2 separate regions of the Homo sapiens genome follow, and region 2 is linked to region 1. Evidence: fine-mapped expression QTL. Tissue or cell type: thyroid. Region 1 holds a variant in brackets; the other region holds the start of a gene. All regions are shown on one strand. Distances are from middle to middle.

Region 1 (2,686 bases):
CATCCTTCAAGGCCATGATGGTGGCACTCATCTTGGTAATCCCTCCAGGGATGTGATGCTGGTTTTGAGTTACTGTTTTCCTAGGTAGGGGCAGCTCTAATGGACTTCCATTTAGACTTTCCCACCATAATAACCCTCACCCTACTGGTCAGGGAACCAACATGGGATTCTGCTAGCTGCTGAATATGTCTATTCCAATCATGCATCTGGAACAGGGGAAATGACCATAAGATGGGTCCGGAGACCCACTGAGCCTGCGGTGAGTTGGACCTGAGCTAAAACTCTATTGATCCCCTAACTTCCATAAGCTCCTACTCTGACTGGTGAACCACAGTGATGTTTTGGGTCTCCTGGAATCGATGTCAGTTCAGAGCCAATGTCCAGTAGTCCCCAAAATGTCTGATTATTTTCCTTTCCCAAGTGCACAGTTACCCTGGTAAAAGGCCGGAGGTCTCTTTGGGGAAAGATCAGAGAAAGATTAACAGTATATATTTTTGGTAGTATACCAGGCTCCTTCCTGGAGGGGCCCTGGCCCCCCCTTCATTAGAGGGGTTTTGGGTCTGTAAACTGGCTCAAGTCTGGGAACTGATTGAGAGGCCATGATTTTCTGTTTTTATGATTCAAGGTAGAATTTTGTTCACTTGACCTGGAAATGTTCTGCTTATATAAATCAAGTAAGAATGTAGTAGGCTTCCTATCTATTTCACTTCTAGGAACACCATGATTAACTAGCCAATGCCACAGATCTACGTAAGTCAGACTATTCTGATTGTTGCTTTGCCTCTGCTGTTTATTATGGTAAACACATCCACATTGCTTTAGTGATTGAGAGCTGCAGCTTGGCCCCAGCCACCCAGGATCCAATGATTCCCATTGCATTTATGTTTTCCAATTGAGTAACTGTGCCTCCCACTGCAAGGTCCATCCTCTGGAGAAGAACAATCACGGAGTTCTTCAGGCATGCTGGGGCTCTGCTCACAAATCTGTTTCTCACAGTATTGGTGAAAGGTATGTCTTCAGACCCTCCCTTTATAGGTGAGCAGATTTTAAGTGATAAATCCAGTACAGGCTTCCATTCTCTCTAGGCATTTTAATCCCTTCCTCTACAATAAACCAAGGGAGAGCAGGCATCTCCAGCTCCCTCACAGTGGGCCACCTTTTGATCCATGTTTCAGCCAACCAACCAAACAGATGGTTAGCACCTTTCCTAACTCCTGGAGCTGCAACATTAAGCACAGAATCTCTGCTTAGTGGTCCCATATGAATAAATTCAGCCTGATCCAACTTTGTGTTCCTTCCACCATTATCTCACACCCTTAATATCCATCTCACACATGTTTCCCAGATTTCTGCTTGTATAAATTAGAAAACTCAAGTAGTTCTTTTGGAATGTAGCATACCTCCTCATGAGTCACGTTTTCTACCTCACCTTTAGGGGCCTGCTGGGACTTGAGTCTGGTTATAGGGCTAGAAACAAAGAGGGGAGGTGAGGGTGGGTCCTGAGGAGAATCAGCCTTGTCTTGGAAACTGCCTTGGGACGCCATTACTGTTTCCTCGGGCAAGGAAGGGCTAACCCCTTCAGACACAGGTGGAAAGGCTGATATTGATACTGTTGTGGGTGGGAAGGCTGCTGCCTGGG[G/A]GTGAGGGTTGTAAGACCACCTCTGCTTGGCAAACAAGTCTCATCAGAATTTAGGGGCTCAATGTCCCCAGTTTCATCAGAGTCTTTCCACACATCCTCATCCCAATTTACAGAATCCCATTCTCTCCCAATCACTGCCCTTAATTTCACACCAGACACTCTGAGAGGCTGAGTCCAACTTTTGTTGTAAATCAGCCAATCAGATGATAAGGGCTTGTGTTTGATTTTCAGCAATTTCAGCCCTGCAGTTACAGAAGAGAAGATTCTGGCTCAGGGCACACTTAGAAGCTTGTAGGTTATTTATGCAGAACTGGAGCTGGAAATTTGAATCTCTGTTATATTTTTCCATCACTTTGACCAGTGACATTAGAAGCAGCCCATCAATGTTATTATTTTCCTTAGTTTTCCACAAATGTTTAAAGGTGTCATGTACAGAGTCATCAAGTTCCTTGCATTAATTTGGATTTAGATTTGGAGCATCAAATGCAGATATTTTGTGTATCTCTATAAACAGTTTAGGACATGAATTAGCAGTGCTCTCTGTACTGTTAGAAGTAGAGTTCCGAGCATTTTTAGGTGTGGTCACATTAAAGAGACAATTTTAGAAACCCCAAAACCAATTAGGGGAACTCATTTTTAAAATTCTGTTCCTCTAGAACCACTCCTGGTACCAAAATCTGTACTAATCAGAGTACGGCAGACAAATAATATCCTAAGCCTCCCAACTGACCTAACAGACCCCCTTTTGGCCAAGAGTACCCAGAGAAACCTTCAAAACTGAGTTCTGGCCAGGACAGGATGGGAGGTCGGACATGTCTCAGTATACTCCTTCTTTATTAACTTTTTTTTCACCTCACTCTGTCACCCAGGCTGGAGTCCAGTGTCATGATCATAGCTCACTGCAGTCTCAAACTCCTGAGCTCAAGCAATCTTTACTGCCTTAGCCTCCTGAGTAGCTGGGACTACAGGCATGCATCATCATGCCCAGCTAATTAACATTTTTTTTTTTATAGAGATGGGGTCTCCCTATGTTGCTCAGGCAGGTCT
Region 2 (2,686 bases), 640 kb before region 1:
GTACTCATTAACCGTCACTCTCCTTTCCAGGATCCCTCCATCCCTGCCATTCTTCAACCCTAGCCCTTGGCAACCACTAATGGATTTTTTGGTCTATTTAGATGTGCCTGTTCCAGACACTTCATTATAAATGGAATCATACAATATGTGGCCTATTGTGTCTGGCTTTTTTCACTTCACATAAAGTTTTCAAGGTTCAGACATATTGAAGTGTGTATATCCCTTCATTTTTTTTCATTGCTGAATAATATTTCTTTCCTTTTTTTTTGAGACAGAGTCTTGCTCTGTTGCCCAGGCTGGAGTGCCGTGATCACAGCTCACTTCAGCCTCCAACTCCAGGGCTCAAACGATCCTCCCACCTGGGCCTCCCGAGTGGCTAGGACTACAAGCACCACCACCACACCCAAGTAATTTTTAAATTTTTTGTAACACACCCAACTAATTTTTAATTTTTTTTGTAGAGACTGCATCTTACTATATGGGTCTTCTTCCTTCTTCTTTCTTCTTCCTTCTTCTCCTTCTTCTTCCTTCATCGTTCTTCTTCCTTCTTTCATTCTTCTTCTTCTTTTTTTTTTTTTTAAATACAGTGTCTGGCTCTGTCGCCCAGGCTGGAGTGCAGTGGTACAATCTTGGCTTATTGCAGCCTCTGCCTCCCAGGCCCAAGTGATCCTCTCATGTCAGCCTCCCCAGTAACTGGGATTACAGGCATGTGCCACCACACTCGACTAATTTTTGTATTTTTTTGTAGAGACAGGTTTTGCTATGTTGCCCAGGCTGGTCTCGAACTCTTGGGCTAAAGCAATCCTCCCGCCTCGGCCTCCCAACGTGCTGGGATTACAGGCGTGACCCACCACCCCTGGCCAGTATTTCTTAATTTGTATAGTCCACACTGGTTTATCCATTCATCCAGTAAAGGACATTTGCGTTGTTTCCACTTTTTGACTATTATGAATAATGCTGCTAGGAAAGAACATTTATATACAAGTTTTTGTGTAGTCACTCGTTTTAATTTCTCTTGGGTATGGGAGTGGCCAATATTCTGAAGAACTGCCAAATTTCTTCCCAAAGTAGCTGCACTATTTTACATACTTAGTTTTTGTTTTTCGTTTTTTTTTAAATAAAGAACCTTTAGGGTTTCCTCAGCGTCCCAGAGGAGGGCCTGCTTCCGGCACCCCGCCTTCAGGGCTGCCTCCGCAGAGCACCAAACTCCCGTCCCCGCCATTCCAGGCCCTGGCACTTAGGAGCCAAAACCTCAGGTCAGGCGCACTTTGGGCCTCCAGCCCAGCCCCGCCTCCTCAGCGCTAGCTAGTAGGCAAAAGGAAAACAGCTGCCCCTTAATGAGGCTATGTGGACATCGTAGTTTTTTTTCCAGTCAGTAGCGCAGAGACTGTGATAAGAAAAATCACAATTCCCAGAATGCCGCGGTGCTACGGCAGCCGAAGGGGCCATTCCGTGTGCAGCGCTCCCGCCCACCCTCCGGTCTCGGCGGCTCTCCAGAGCGTCTGTAAACACCCAGAGACTGTCATGGAGGGGGAGGAGGAGGCGGCGGCGGCGAAGGGAGGCGTTTGGGGCCGCCTCCAGGGTCCGCTCTGCCATTCCTGAACTGGTCCCTCGTCCCCGTGACTCTGGCATCAGGGAAGCGAACTGTTAGGCGAGAGGAGGAGGCAGCCAGAACCATATCCCCTTCTTCCTCGGGGCGGGGGCCGGGCCAGGCCGGCTGAGCCGGGGGAGGGCTCCGGGAGGGAGTGCCTGGCCAGGCCGGCCTGTCTGCCGCGATGGATGACAGTAAGGTAAGTCTTGTGGTTTGCACGCGCCGCCGCCTTCTTGTCGCTCAATGCTAGTCCCGCGGCTGAACCTCCGCTATGTAGTCCACGCCAACACCCAAGAGACACCTGCCTAAAACATCCCTGCGCCTCTCCAGTCCACTGCCCGATGGTACCCAGCCAGGAAATCAGGGAACACCGGGGCTGCGTTTTTCCAGGAAGGGCCCTCTCTGGAAATTTTTCACTCCCAGGGCGTTTGCTAGCTTTCCAGGTAGTGCAACCCCTAGTCCTTAACTTGCCTGTCGAGATAAGAAACTACTGTACTTTTTCTTCTTGCACTTTTTTGCTGCCTCCTCTCTCCAGTTTGGAGACTTTAGTGCACGCTGAACCAGCCTTATTCCCCTTGACGATTCCCCTTCTCTCAGGCTCCCTTACTCAATGCCCCATTCATATAATCAGTTCACTCCCCCTCTGAGCTATTTCCTGTGGTTGGTTGGAACACCGCTAAGCTCCTGTTGCTATTTGGCCAGTGTGGAGTTTAACCTCCACTAGAAAGCCTTCTCTAAAAAAATACTGATTTTCCTCTTGTTAACTTTAATAGCCCATCACCATCCAATTTCCCTGTCCAAATCACTTACTTTATGATTATAAAATAATAGATAATGTTCATTATTGGTTAATCCAAATAGTTTATCTATGTATAGCCTTTTTGTCTTTATTTATTAATTGAGACGGAGTTTCGCTCTTGTCGCCCAGGCTGGAGTGCAATGGCGCGATCTCGGCTCACCACAACCTCCGCCTCCCGGGTTCAAGCGATTCTCCTGCCTCAGCCTCCCGAGCAGCTGGGATTACAGGCATGCACCACCATGCCCGGCTAATTTTGTATTTTTGGTAGAGATGGGGTTTCTCCATGTTGGTCAGGC

The links. PIP is the estimated chance that this variant, and not a neighbour inherited with it, causes the effect.
Region 2: it holds the start of CREBL2, and the variant in region 1 is fine-mapped to the expression of CREBL2 in thyroid (GTEx, PIP 0.98).

What each region holds. Positions count from the first base shown.
Region 1 is chr12:13,246,358-13,249,043 of GRCh38, forward strand. No RefSeq gene overlaps it. Among named protein-coding and RNA genes, the nearest start is that of EMP1, 51 kb to the left of the region's middle. The variant G/A (reference allele first, on the strand shown) is at 1,640.
Region 2 is chr12:12,610,398-12,613,083 of GRCh38, forward strand. CREBL2 (cAMP responsive element binding protein like 2) reads left to right here and starts at 1,479. Exons shown (of 4, transcript NM_001310.4): 1 at 1,479-1,790. The coding sequence starts at 1,776. RefSeq lists enhancers at 848-1,599, 1,193-1,272, 1,323-1,372 and a silencer at 1,533-1,832.